2 linked regions of the Homo sapiens genome follow. The protein of the gene in region 1 interacts with the protein of each later gene in a pairwise test. Each region holds a gene or a part of one and is shown in the gene's direction. Other genes may lie near its edges.

Region 1 (7,600 bases):
GGTGACTGATCCATAGATGAGGAACCCACAGATAATGGCAAGCCAACGGTATCCATCCAGATCACAGGGGAGGGATTTGGCCTGGTGATACATGCTTGAGAGTCACTTGCCTACAGATTATAGCAGAAGCCATCTGATGGAATGAGATGATCCAGGAATAATGGGGAAAGCAAGAAGCAACCTTTAAGGATCAGGGAAAGGAATACTCTGAAAGAAAGCTGGGAACTAGGAGGAAAATGAAGAGAGAGAGTTCTATGCTGGAACTTAAGGAAGGGTGTTTTAATAAGGGGGACATGGTCAACGGTGTTAGATGCTACAGAGAGATATGAACTGGTGGTGAGGAATTTGAGAGTAGAAGTATGCCACACTTTCAAATAGACAGGCTACAACAGGCAGAAGCTAGGATACATAAGACAAGAGGAAGCATTTTTAAAGTTGGGTGAGACTTTAGAGATGGGCAAGCCAGCAGTGAAAGAGGTTAATGATAAAGATGAGAAGACAGATTGGAGATGGAGAAAGATTTCTGAAGTGGTGAGAGGTAATAAGATACAATGCAAGGTACATTCCATTAACCTGCAAAGGAGGATGGATAATCTATTCTGAAATAAGAAGGTAGAATGGAACAGTGGAATCAGGTTTGGAGGGAAATGCTTAACATGTTTGCATACTGTTCTCATCTTTACATACTTTTTCAACAACCCTGCAAAGTAGGAGGTATGATATATCTTCAGTTCATAAAGGAATTGATAGCACAGTTGGTAAGTAAATGGAAGATTAGGGTTTGAGTCTAAGCCTATCTGCCTCCCAAGTTAATAATCTTTCTGCTGCACAGTTTCAGTATCCCCAGTCTGTGAAATTGGGATAATAACAGAACCAGAGGCCAGGCGAGGTGGCTCACATCTATAATCCCAGCATTTTGGGAGACCAAAGTTCAAGGATCACTTGGGCCCAGAAGTTCAAGACCAGCCTGGGCAACATAGGGAAACCTCATCTCTAGTAAAAAATTTAAAAATTTGCCGGGCGTGGTAGCGCAGACCAGTGGTCCCAGCTATTTGGAAGGCTGAGGCAGGAGGATCACTTGAGCCCAGGAGGTTGAGGCTGCAATGAGCTGTGTTCACACCACTGCACACCAGCCTGGGGAACAGAGTGACACCCTGTCTCAAAAAACAAACAAAACAACAACAACAACAAAACAAGCGTTTAAGGATTTAGGAAGGTAATGCTTCCACCACAGGGCTTGAATGAATGAATGTTAACTTCCTCTTACCTATTCTTGTTTTTTTTTTTTTGAGATGGAGTCTCGCTCTGTCACCCAGGCTGGAGTGCAATGGCGCGATCTCGGCTCACTGCAAGCTCCACCTCCTGGGTTCACGCCGTTGTCCTGCCTCAGCCTCCCGAGTAGCTGGGACTACAGGCGCCTGCCACCACGCCTGGCTAATTTTTTGTATTTTTAGTAGAGATGGGGTTTCACTGTGTTAGCCAGGATGGTCTCAATCTCCTGACCTCATGATCCGCCCGCCTCAGCCTCCCAAAGTGCTGGGATTACAGGTGTGAGCCACCGCACCCAGCCCCTCTTACCTATTCTTTTGGAGGAGAAAAAATCAAGAAGCCTTCCCAGGTTGTAATTTCCCAAGCTGTTTTTTTTGTCCAGCTCCTCTGCATATCTGACAAAATTTCCCATAGCATCTTTCAGTAACACTTTTATCTTGCTCATACTTCCCCCATCATCACAATTACACTTATGTTCACAGGGTCTCTGGGGCTTGCTGTCATTCCTTCATCTGGCCAAAAAATGCTTCTTCCTGAAAGCCCCGAGTGAAGCATTCTCCTGGTTCTAAGTACAGTTCATTAGCTCCCCGGTTTCCCTTTTCTCCTCCTTCAAGTACACAGATAACTAATCTAAAATAGGGCCTTCCCAGTCCGAACCGTTGGTATCAAGTACACAGGAGTGCCATAGCCTTGAATCTAATTACCTAGTACTTTGAATAAATCTGGAAAGACTAGTATGCTTGCAAGATGATACAAATGTATAAAATAAACATTTAAATTATACAGAATTTTTTTTTTTTTTTTTGCTTTGCTTGTCTCTACACAGCCAATAATTTCTGAAGATCAGACAGCAGCCCTGATGGCCCATCTCTTTGAAATGGGATTCTGTGACAGGCAGCTGAACCTACGGCTGCTGAAGAAACACAATTACAATATCCTGCAGGTTGTGACAGAACTTCTTCAGTTAAACAACAACGACTGGTACAGCCAACGCTATTGAGGAGTGACCTTGTATTAAATAACTGCCTGCTGCTCAGAGATGATCTTTATTCTGTCATTGGGGTATGGGATAGAAGCCCTTGCTTATTTTTAATCTGATGAATCTGTATAGAGCCCATCGTTGAGTTACCAAGACAATACCTGCTACAGTATTTTGGGGAGCAAACTAAAGACCAGAACTTAAATTTTCACTTTAGACATTGGATGAATAGTATGAAGACAGTTTTTCAGTTGATTTGGATAAAACTATTTTAGTGCATTGACAAGTGTAACTTCAACTTCATATAGAACCATTTTTCTTTCTGCTTTTATTGAAACTGAGTATTTTTCTTTGGCTAATGTGGATTTTTTATGGGGATATCTGTTAATTTTCAGGTTTTGAAAGACATTAACCTCGGAAGTTGTTTTTAAGAATTATTCTCATAATTCTTATTCTCATAATTTCTGTAATCCACCTCAAGCTTCATAGTTATTTGGCATTGAAATAACACCCAGAGCATGATAGAAATGTTGTTACTCTTCCTCTCTCAAGGAGAAAGTAATTTTCCTGCAATACTTAATAATTGGCACCGTTGCTTTCTAAAGACTCCATGGTGCATTCAAGAGTATCCAACTTCAAGGGAATCTCCGCATTTCAATGAAAGGAGGAAGAGTGTGCTGATAAACCTACCAGCACCTATTGAGCAATGTCTATTATAGTAATTTTGCATACATTTTTATTTAAGGGAAAAAATATAGGTATTGTGAAATATTTTGCTAATCTTATAGAAAAGGAAAAAATCCCGTTATTTAAAGGGAAAAGTAAATTTAACAGTTGCCTTTTTTCTTAATGTCAGGGCAGATCTTATTTTACAGTACAGTGGGGGAAATAGAAACATGTGAAAGGCAAAAGGCAGGCTCCTAAATTAATGTCAGTGAAGTTCAGGGTGGGCAAATGAGTGTGTGTGAGGTATAGGAAATGCTGATGACTTCTTTAATGCTTGAAGTCCGTTCACAGGTATCTAGCCCTAGAATGCCTAGAACAGGAAGAGGCAGCTGGTGTTCTGCAAAACTTGGACAGGGGCAAAGTTGCTGAAAAAGTTTTGGTTTAACCCGAAGATAAGTGGAAAAGAGCTTGTCCATGAACCCAGGTTCTCACTCTGTTTACAGAAGTGTGTTGAGTACAGTTGGTGAAGGAAGAGGTAACAAAAAATGCTAAATATTTTATCCATGAAAATGACTTCCAGAAAAGGAAGAATATGAACCCCAGACCGAAGGGGAAAAGATAGTTAATAGTATTATCTAACCTGGTTGGTATTTGTAATGAATGGTGATTTTAATTAGTCATTAGCCATAATGATGTTTATTTACAGTATAACTCCTGAATGCTACTTAAATAAACCAGGATTCAAACTGCAAGCCAGCCAGGCCGTTCATTATTTAAAACGTTTTAATCGGGGCTTCCGGGTAGAAGGTGGAGCGGCAGGGTGTAATTGGGTTGATGGGTGGGACCTGTCTTGACCATCGGAGTTTTATAATCGAGGGCCAGGAGGGCCCGGGTTGCTCTCCTGGTTATGTATGTACTTGTACATAACCACCTAAAGAATGGTGAAATAAATGTTCTTGGAAATTCCTACCCGGACTGGCTAGTCCTTGCGGAAGCAGCGTCCGGGCCCTCGGGTAACGTTTGAAGAGCTGGCAGCGTCTCAGGCTGCTGCGTGGCGAAGGGGCGGACCGGGGGACGGGGGGGTGGGCCCTTAGGGGCTGGGGCGGGACTTCCCTGGGCACTGAGTCAAAGCTTGAGGGGAGTGTTCGCTCCCGCATTTTCGATTCCACTCTCTTCCGTTTCTGTCGCTGCAGTCGTCCGCGGGTAAGGCCCTCCCTAGACCCTTTATACCTACTTTACCTTTCGGAGGTCAAGACACCTCCTGTTGCCGCCTCCTCGCCCAACACACAGGCGCCCCCCGCACGGGTACCAAGCTTGACTAACGGCCTCTAGGGGTGTGTGGTGGGACTTGAAATCCTCCCTTAATGAAGTCACACCTTCTCCGTCCGCTTCCACCCGGTCGGCCCATGGCAGAGCCCCCATGTAGCCCAGGAATCGGCTTGGCCCTTCGGGGAGGTCAGCGTCCTTACTATCCCCACTCTCCAGTGCGGCACATTCGTTCCCCTAGGACTCCGGCCGGTTGCCGGCCCCAGGCGGTGCTTCTCCCCACCACCGCCCAGCTCAGCTCAGCCCAGCCCAGCCCACTCTGCCCTTAGAGGCCCTTCTCCCCAAAGACGCACTCCAGAAGTCTCGCCCTCGTGCGGCTGAGGAGCCTGGGATCCCAGACCTGAACAAGGTGAGCATCCCTATATTTTAGCCCAGAAAGATCTGTGTGGCTCACTTGCCGGCCTCGTTCTGTCACACAGAGTCCAGATTTAGCCTTGAGTTTTCCTAGTGAAAGACAGACCCTGGTATCACTATGACCCTCCTCAGGCTTTCTTACCCCGCCTCAGAAAGCAGTGAGGTGTCTGCTTTCTCCCAGGGCTTCTTTAGATAGGGGTCTTAACCACACCTGTGACCAGTCTGGCCTCCTCTCTCCTTGATTCAAAGAATCTCTTTTCTGCCCTATCCAACTTCCTTCCCTTAAACTGAATGACAGCTCAGCAACTTTTCCAGAGAAAAATTAAATGCTCTGACAATCACTTATGGAAGTTCCTTAAAGTGAAGTAACTTCTGCTTTTCTTTTGTTTTCCCTTTTGTAGGCAGATTGGTCTCTTTTAAAATAATGAAAGGAGTCGAAATGCATTGAGACTTCTGAGAGTCCCATGTGACCACCCAGTTTTTCACATCCTATCTTCCTTAGGCTTGAGCTTGCTTAAACTGTGGTGAAGCTCCTTGCCAGTCTTGAGAACTTCAAACCAAAATTACATCTGGCGTCAGTGCTAACAAGCTTAGCACTGAACTTTGGTCTTTTCTCATTAGTGAAACCCCCGCCCCTGAAGAATGGGTAAGACGTTTTCCCAGCTGGGCTCTTGGCGGGAGGATGAGAACAAGTCAATCCTGTCCTCCAAACCAGCCATTGGCAGCAAGGCTGTCAACTACTCCAGCACCGGTAGCAGCAAGTCTTTTTGTTCCTGTGTGCCTTGTGAAGGAACTGCTGATGCCAGCTTCGTGACTTGTCCCACCTGCCAGGGCAGTGGCAAGATTCCCCAAGGTGAGTGGCCCAAGGCTCTGGAAATAGCCTGGAATCCAGGGAAAGTTCTTAGCCTGTTGGCCTGGGGCAGCCCCTCTGAGTCTCCTTGGATGGGGTTAGATCTGCTCCCAGCTCTTGACCTCCCAGTCTCAGGCTGGCCAGGGAGATACTTAACTATCCTTGGGTTCCCTGCAAAAACCTGCCCTCCTTCCCTGGTTGTATTCTCCAGCCCCTTGTGGGAAAGAAGGATTCTAGCCACTGTGCTTCTGAGCAACACTGTGTGTCCTAGGATTCATTCAGTTCAGGAAGTTACAAATGAACTTTCCAAAGATGCTGGGCATCTCTGATTTGCTGGTGACTTTCAGAGATTCTTCATACCTATTAGTGGAAATCTCACTTCCATTCTAGAGATGGCAAAGCTGAGCTGCCAACTTTGGTAGCAGAGTCCAGTGCTTCCAGTCCTGCTCTGGGGCAGATGTGGCATGTTTCTAACATTGCTCTATGGTGTGGGTGGAGGCGTGCTTCTGGGAAGCTGGCACAGTAAATATTTGTCACAGTTGCATCTTGGCCCTCCCTCTCACCTTCTCTCTCTCTAGAGCTGGAGAAGCAGTTGGTGGCTCTCATTCCCTATGGGGACCAGAGGCTGAAGCCCAAGCACACGTAAGCCCCCCTTCCTCCCCTAGCTTCACAAGCCATTGCCCCTGGGGGCTGCTCCCTTTGTCTCCCCTGTTTTGATCTCCCTTAATTTCTTCCTATTAGTTCTTCCATAGAAAGCCTGAGCCTCAGAGGTACCAGCTCCTTACGTCCAAGGATTTTTTCCTGATTTAGAAGCTCCTGGACCGGGTGTGGTGGCTCATGCCTGTAATCCCAGCACTTTGGGAGGCCAAGGCAGGCAGATTACTTGAGCTCAGGAGTTCAAGACCAGCCTGGGCAACATGGTGAAACCCCATCTCTATCAAAAAAAAAAAAAAAAAGAAAAAAAAAAAGAAAAGAAAGAAAGAAAGAAAAAAGCAGCAGCTGTGGGCACAGCAGATGTCACTTGAGGCCACCTGGTGGGCTTCCTTAAGCATCACTGCTTCCAGAAAGCATGGCCCCCTCTCCAAGACAGGAAGGATCTGGTAGCTCTGCAAGTCCTCCCAGGAAGGAGGGAACAAGCATGTGGCCCTGGCTGCAATTGATTTGAAAATGTTATTTTTCTTAAGCACCTCCCTTGCTGAGGCAGTTCAGATTTGCTTGTTTTTCTTCTAGTAGAGATGAAAAACCTATTGTCCGCTGTTCTGGGATACTTCAGAACCTCAGGCAGACCTGGGGCCTACTGTGTTTGTGATCTGAGTCCATCTGACATGGAGCTCCCTCAACCTCCTCCCAAGGTCCTGGTGTCAACCTGGGAGTCACCACCAAGCCGAACCCTCTCCGCCACCCCACTATACCAGAATTAGAAATCAGGCTGGGCGTGGTGGTTTATGCCTGTAATCCCAGCACTTTGGGGAGGCCAAGACAGGCGGATCACCTGAGGTTAGGAGTTCAAGACCAGCCTGGCCAACATGGCGAAACCCTGTCTCTACTAAAAATAGAAAAATTATCTGGGCGTGGTGGCAGACACCAGTAATCCTAGCTACTTGGGAGGCTGAGGCAGGAGAATTGTTTGAACCCAGGAGGTGGAGGCTTCAGTGAGCCAAGATCATGCCACTGCACTCCAGCCTGAGCAACAGAGCGAGGCCTCATCTGAAAAAAAAAAAAAAACAAAAAAAAACCCTGTAATCCCAGCACTTTGGGAGGCCAAGGCGGGCAGATCACGAGGTCAGGAGTTTGAGACCAGCCTGACCAACATGGCAAAACCGCCTCTACTAAAAATACAAAAATTAGCCGGGCATAGTGGCAGGCACCTGTAATCCCAGCTACTCAGGAGGCTGAGGCAGGAGAATGGCGTGAACCCGGGAGGTGGAGGTTGCAGTGAGCCGAGATCGTGCCACTGCACTCCAGCTTGGGCGACACAGCAAGACTCCATCTCAAAAAAAAGAAAAAAAAAAGAAATTAGCAGTGCACATCATAAGATACTAACAAAGTACTATCTCTTTAATGCATATCTGAATTTTGAATTGGATGGATGGTGTCCTGTTCTGAATGTTAAAATTCAGAACTTCCAAATATGGACTTATTTCTTCTAGTGATAA
Region 2 (7,595 bases), on another chromosome or scaffold:
AAGATCTCAAGAGACCATCTATGTTTCCAATGGGTACGCCTATCAACAAGCCTGCCTTAGAGCAGACTTAAGAATTCTGGGAAGAGACTAGCAGTCAGATTAGTCTTGGAAGAGTTGCATAGGAAAGGGACACAGGCATCTTACATAAATTAAAGACTCTCCCCTTAATGGTATGGCCTAGCAAGAAACAACAGCAGATTAAAATCCAGGCTCTTTGGGCTTTCCTTAACAAATCTATGAGACTTGTTGGGACTCTGTGGCCCTTGGTAGAGAGAGCTGTGCATGCAACTGTGCTTATTGGTGGCAGTGATTTGTTTGCAGTCCTGGGATTTCCTCCAAGCTCTTAGTGTTTGCTCTCCTAGCCTCCACCACGCCTCCTTTTTATTTTGTCTTTCAACATCTGTGTATAATAAACAGTATTTATTTAACATCCCACATCTGGTGTTGACATTTCCATGCCAATAAGTCCTTCTCCTCACTCCCGCTTTGGTGTGTACAAAAGATCCAGATTCCTGTATCCAAATTGAGAACAAGCCATGCTTGACCTCCTCCCCTCACATACCTCAGGTCTGCGTGCACACAGGTGTGCACACGCACAGACTCACACACACACAGACACACACACACACACACACAGACCAGAGAGAGAATGAAATCAAAATAAAGTGAAACAAGGACGACTAACTCTGGGTGAGCTGCTGCATTTTCTTACAGGTCCCAGGCCCCTGACCCACAGCCACATACAGGAGCCACCTGAGCTAAATGAAAGCCAGGTCCATCCAGCTCTGAATTCAGCTTTCTTAAACAAGCAGAAGAGACCTATTCAGTCCCAGCAATTTTGAGAAAGCATCGTAATGAGGCTCCCCTTCTAGGCAGTGACTGCCCTGGGATCATTGAAGCAGAATCACCAAAGAAACATTCTTGCTTAAAGCCCCCTGTATTACACATTTTACTGGAAACAGTCAGAAGCCAACTCCTCAGCTAATTAATCCAACATGAAGCAAACAAATCAGAAAAATCCTAGCCCTTAAACCAACAGTTTAGAAACTTAGCACAGACCTTGTAGCCCATCCCTGCCAATCCTTTGTGGAGCGAGGCAGAAGAATCATACATTTAATAAATGAAAGAGTGTCCTTACTGCCTTACATAGGAGCTGCCTGGTGACTTTAGGGTTGTTTGAAAGCCATCAGGACCACAGTAATCAATAGATTCGTGAGGATGTTCCTTCAACTTCTATATATTACCAGAGCAATGAGGAGTGGTAGGGATAAGCGGGCACTTTTCTGCCCTCCTGCCACACCTCAGTTGCAGGTGATCACTAAAACAGTCTCCCCCAGCGTTGTGAGTCCACTATCATTCTAGGTTGAAAATCCTTTGCTCAGAAGAAGCACTTTCTTGACGAGTCTGATTGCAACATTTTGTGCGTGCCTATTTCTTGGCACGCACAATTGGGCATTAGCCCAATATTAACTTTTTTCGCTCCTCTCTAGGCACACAAGGAAGACAACTTTTTTCTCCAGGTCCCCTGGGCTTTCCTACACCACAGTCCGGTGGGTGAAATGTGGGTCTAGAGAAACATTAATATACCCTCAAGGAAAAAGTTGAAGGAGTAGCCGGAATATTTTTGGCAGGGAGACTGAGCTTTACCAGATGGTGCCATGTTGGCATTTTCAAAAAAAAAAAAAAAAAAAAGACCTCTCTTCATTTTCCTCTTAAAGCATTGTGAGACCCAGGTCCACCCTTGTACAACTCTCACTGGGCCAGCTCTTATTCTGGGCTACTCAAGGGCAGCTCCCAGCAATTATGTGGAGCCAGGCTGTGGCTGTGATGGGCATGTTCTTCTTAGTCAGTCTCTTCATTCTCCTAAGGCAGCATTTGCTGAACAACTTATATGACACCAGGATGAAGAGCCTGGGCCTTCAAAGACAGCTGTTCTGGAGTGGTTGAGAGTGGAATTGGGGCTGTGGAGGAAGTAGCCTGGATGATCAACAGATAGTGGCAGTAGGCGTAGTCCAGTGATCAACCTGACAGGTTGATCTGAGCAAATCTCAGCAGACTTTGCTAACTATCTAACATTACAGATGAAAAGGGGTAAAGGATTAAAATAGGAACTGAGTCCCTAGAGACACTCAGTGATTTGCCCAAAATCACACAGCTTGTAAGTGGTGGGGTTAAGGTTAGAACTAGAGGCTAGTCTGAAGATTCTTTCCACTATTCTTCAGCTGCATTTAAGAATCAGGGATGGGGATAATGGGTAGGAGAAAAACTTACTGGTCAGCTCAAGTCTGTAGATAAAAGAAGTAGCTTTTTCTTGTTGAAAAAGAATGTCTGTGCTGCTTATGCCAATATTTTGCATATTGCCAAATGGTGATTGAAGATGCAGAACTCTAACTTTGCATAAGGAACAATCTGTCTGCTCTGTGTTGGTAAAGAAATACCCAGAGGCCCTTTAATTCCCCCAAGTTAGGTTAATAATAATATGGTACAGTGCATTCTCTTCCCTTCCTTCCAGCCTAACACCTGCTAGCCAGCTATTCTGAGCATGTATTTCACCTTTGGAGAGTGTACCTCATAACAGACAGTAAGGGATGAAGATGGAGTGAAGAGCAGCTAGATTAATCACAGGCTTCAAAAAACAAACCTAAGCCAAATGTCCTCAAATCCCTGTCAGGACAGGCTAAAGCTTCTTGCCCCTAAAACAGATCCATCACACTGAGGTCTGAGATAGCTTTACCTTTTCTAAATAGCTTTCTTTTCTGATCTCAGGGACTGCCACAGAGGCAAGAAAACAAGGAAAACTGTGAAAGAGGGATGTTAGGGCTCATTTGCTGCCTGAATGGAGGATTTAACTGGACTGAAGACAGAATTCCTGGGCAGGGAAGAAAAATGGGTTGTGTCCTCTACATATTTTGTCAGTGTGGTCTTCTTACACTTCTCACTGCCTGGACTTAACCACATATCTGTCTCATTTCACTTCTGATTCCTATTCCACTCCATTGGCTTCCTTGTTCCATTCCAGTGTTCTGGTTCTTATAGTTAAGGCCAGCCTTATGTGTGGGTGGAGTAAGAGCCCATTTGAGTGGTGCTGGAAAGATGCCCTTGCCCCCAAATATCTCCCATTCCTCGTGCCACTGTGCCTATTAGATTGGTGCAAAAGTAACTGTGGTTTTAGCCATTGAAAGTAATGGCAAAGTAATAAAGTAATAAAATCCACTATTAGTACTTCATTCCTCTGAGTGAAGTATTGCACTCAAATTTTTAAACAGACAAATATTCATCACTAATATCTAAGTGTGAAATCATGGGTCAGATTGATTTCTTCTTTGTCATAAGGTACCTGAAGCACCACGAGATTCCTAGATGTCTAGACAGGAGACAAAGGGACAGAAATGGGAAGAGAAAGGGGAAGGGCTATGAGGGTATAGAATGAACAGAATATGAAAATAGAGCAGAAAAGGAAAGCTAGAAGCACCAAAAATTAACTCTCTCTATTTTCCAATTGGGCAGGGGTGTACTCCTCATCATATTCTGTCCTTGCTCTATCCTCCCTGGAATAAAGCTGAGTTGGAGGCAGCTGAGATGAGCTACTTGTAGCCCACTCACACCTCTCTTCAGGCCAGTCATCCTGTCTCTGCTTTAGCTTGCTCCTGGAGAGGACAAAGCCATTTATTCTTTCATCTCCAGAAAGACCTTCAACCCCTGAGCCAGGAAGCTTAGTAGAGAGCAAAGTACTTGTGATGCCAAAGGCATGAGCTCAGTCTTCATACGGGCCAGTGAAGCTTGCATAGCCATTACCCAAGCAATGTGCTCCACAGGGACCCAGGCGAGACAGTGTGTCTGGATTTGCTCATACCCATCTCCAAACAGTCCAAAGTGGGCCACCAGCATCATCTTCCTAGACGAAGAACAGTCTGTTCCAAAAGGACACCTTTGATAGTGGAATTCTGTCTGGGTGAATATATAGCTCCCCACTCCTACCCCCTACCAAGGATTCACACATAAACGAAGTCATTCTGTTCCCACTCTAGTAACTTATCATTACTAACATAAAGCCAACAAGTTGGTTAATGAACACAATCAGAATGGACCCCTTCTCCCCTACCAAAAAAACTCTTTGCAGGAATGTTGAAAATAATCAAGATCTGCTGAGCTTGGCAGTTTCCAATAGTTTTCATCTAGCAAGGTGTCCAAGTAAAGTGCATTGCCAACAGTGCAGGAAAACTCATTCCACAGAAGCACACTGAAATTCTAAATGTCACCAGTAGGTTCCATAGTCTTCTACCAGTGATTGAAAATACAGCCTGTATTTTCTCTTTCGCCCAGGTAGGCAGTGTTCCAGCATCCCCTAGTCTCTAACCTCATTTTTCCATACAATAATCCATCAGTGGTGCTACTGATGAAATAAACACCCCACCGCAGCCCCCAATGGCTAGTGGCATCAACATTTGTCTCAAAAATGGATAGTATTTCTAACAAAATTCCCCCGTTGGGAGAGCTGACAGGACTGGATCTGAAGTGGATGCCTCTCTTTTCTACTTAGGTCAGACAGACTGAGAGCTCAATTTGTTGCCACAGGTAGAAGTTTCTCTTCTCAAGCTGGCTGCAGAGCTGGAACTGAGGACATATTTATTGCTAGAAGCAAATAACAAACCTAAAGGAATTTGCTACCTATCACAAACCAGGCCAGACTTCCTGAGTTAACTCTGCAGTTGCCAGAGAGTTCTAAGTATTGTTTTTCTTTCACTTTTAAAATGGTTTTTTTAAAAGACCTTGCCAATACTCAAAAATGTCTCTTTAGGAAGATAAGGATGTGCCATTGGTGGGGACAACTTATTCAACAAATACTTAGGTTCCAACCATGTCCAAAGCACTGTAGGGCTACCAAGAGGTAAATGACATTGTCTCTTGTTTTTCTCTTCAGCAGCTACATTAGACTTGTCACCCTTGAAGTAACACTTGCTTCTACAAATGGTTCCAATTTGTTTTTCTCTAGTTGAGTTGGTGAATATTTCACCAGGTTAAACTAACATTCAGTCAATGGCATCAGCAGAGACTAAAAAATGACCCAACCTGGTGTAAGTTCTCTATAAGGCTGCCACTGGGAACCGTATCATTAGAAAGCAATGTGGGCTCTGAAGAAGACTTGCTTTTTCAGGCTTTTAGTTTCCCAGATTTTTTTCATAAGGAAAAATGAACATGGAGAAACTCGATAAACAAAGGTCTCCTAATGACAGAGATAAGATAGACTTCCAAAAGGCATCATCAGGTCTGGCCTGGTTTGTGACAGATAACAAATTCCTTTATGCTTATTTGCTTCTACCTATAAATATGTCCTAAAACTATAAGTTATGGGCTTACTCCTAAACTGCAGTGCCATATGGGACTGGTCCTCTTGGTCTTTAGAAATACAATTGCCTCTTTTAGAGTGCAGGAGAAAATCTGGGGTTTTGTTTTAGCCACTCAAGAAAGACCTGATGAGCAGTCTTTCTTCTTGGGAGGCTCCATGTTACTTAATGCAGGACACTTGGCTCAGTTGGCTTAATTCCATATACACAAAAGAATCCGTAGAACTTGAAAACAACTGAATATGGCTTGGGAAACAGAACCCAGGAATAAACTGGGTGGGGTTGGTTGCCGTATAAAGAGAAGGCTAAGGGAAGGCAATAAATGTTTCCTGGAGTTTAAGGGGCAAAAGGAAGCAAACAGAGCAGGGTAGGGCTCTAATATTGGCAAGGAGAAAGTCTTCAGATTCTAAAAGGAATAGACTCAAGGCTGTTGTGGCAATATTAAAGCCCTGGATAAATAAGGAGACAAAAAACACTTAACCATTTTAAGTGTATTCAAATCTCTTTCTAAGCCCTAATGAATTTCACGGGTGAGGGGCGGGGCAGTAAGGGGGGGGTCGTGATTACTTAGCACTTGGAAAGGGAAGTGGTAGCTTAAAGAAGCAGCATAGGTTTTAGGTGATCCCTCAGCTTAACACAAGGGGAAAATACTTTATAGGCTGGTTTGCAAACTATCATTTGCTGTTTAGTCAAGGCTGCCAAGAAAACTGTTGGAATTCTTAGTAATTAGCTCAGCAGCTTGGCTTGAATTCAAAATACCAGCTCTGAAGGGATCCCCATATCAGCTCCAGCGCCAAAAAGCACCTCACTTTAGGGACACACTGAGTATCTTAGAGATTGTTTTCCTCTGTTCTCCCAGGCCTATGACATGGAGCACACTTTCTACAGCAATGGAGAGAAGAAGAAGATTTACATGGAAATTGATCCTGTGACCAGAACTGAAATATTCAGAAGCGGAAATGGCACTGATGAAACATTGGAAGTGCACGACTTTAAAAACGTAAGTTGGATGTTTTCCTCCTAAGGCTTTCCACTTAAAATATTAGAGCAGTTGAGTCAAGTTAAAAATAGCCTCCATCTAAAATTTGAATTCAAATGGAAAGCTAGCCTCCTCTAGCTTTCCATTTGAATTCAAATTTTGCTAGTCTGGGACCCCAACAGATCATGGAACTTACTAATAGTGGCTCTTTTGGGAAGCTTTATTGTTGTTTTGTCTGTTTTATAGGGATACACTGGCATCTACTTCGTGGGTCTTCAAAAATGTTTTATCAAAACTCAGATTAAAGTGATTCCTGAATTTTCTGAACCAGAAGAGGAAATAGATGAGGTATGTAAGAAGAATAATTGTGGTGGCAAAAGACATCATTTATTGGATGCTAGCTATGTGCCAAACATTGTACTAAATGCTTTACTTTTCTTTGATTCTCCAACAACCTTATAAATAGATACTATTGTTATCATCATTTTCAGATCAGGAAACTAGAACTCAGAGCCAAAAAGTGACTTGCTCAAGGCCACACAGCTAGTGAGTAGCAGATTGGGGTCTTGAACTTAGGCCTTTCAGAAAACTCAAGTGCATAATTTTAGGTGCAATGCTATACTCTTATACCCGGGCACCCATTAACATTATGTTGATTTTCTCTGAAACCAAAGATTTCTAGTAAGAGGGATGAGCCAGAGAAACAAAATCAATCTTGCCTCAGATAAAGCGTTTTTAAAAAAGAAAGTTCCAAAGCCACCTGGGGTTCTTGCCACTTTTGTCACACTTCAGTATTCACCTATTTTAAAGATTGTGGTTCATTCACCTTACCATTTTATGCTGGGCTGCTAATGGAATAATTCACATTTAACCTCAGTAGGAAAGGCAAAAGCAAAGAAGGTGAACACTGCAATGGGATACAAATTCTCTGAAAACACCCTGCTAGACCAAAGTAAGGCAACCTAGGGTGCTGGTGAAATCACTGAATGGCCCTTTAAAACCTAATGGGAGATGGATGTTATTGCCTAAAATACAACGATCTGTAAGGCCCTTGAGGCTCTTTATTGTTCCCTGATATTTTGTCTATAATTACAGTATGGTTTTATTAGTGGGAGGAGAAGGGGGACCTCAGTTAAGGTCATATTGTGACAGCATATCCCCACTATAGCAAGAAAAAACAAACATTGGTTTGGTTTGGTTTAGTGCTTAGTTGCCAAATCTAAAGTGGAATTATGGCAATGGCAGAATGATCTTTCTTCTTCTTCTTCTTC

Evidence for each region.
Region 2: the proteins of TMEM106A (region 1) and TNMD interact in binary tests that used the Homo sapiens proteins (3 or more experiments, as listed by UniProt).

Annotation. Positions count from the first base shown.
Region 1 is NC_000017.11:43,207,806-43,215,405, forward strand, and holds the start of TMEM106A (transmembrane protein 106A), read left to right. Parts: upstream 1-4,069; 5' UTR 4,070-4,117; intron 4,118-4,399; exon of another isoform or gene 4,400-4,421; 5' UTR 4,422-4,589; intron 4,590-5,215; 5' UTR 5,216-5,236; coding exon 5,237-5,447; intron 5,448-6,022; coding exon 6,023-6,086; intron 6,087-7,600. Other genes in the region: NBR1 (next to BRCA1 gene 1 protein), read left to right, coding at 2,096-2,269. UniProt on the Homo sapiens protein: Activates macrophages and polarizes them into M1-like macrophages through the activation of the MAPK and NF-kappaB signaling pathway.
Region 2 is NC_000023.11:100,587,691-100,595,285, forward strand, and holds part of TNMD (tenomodulin), read left to right. Parts: intron 1-6,204; coding exon 6,205-6,345; intron 6,346-6,570; coding exon 6,571-6,672; intron 6,673-7,595. UniProt on the Homo sapiens protein: May be an angiogenesis inhibitor.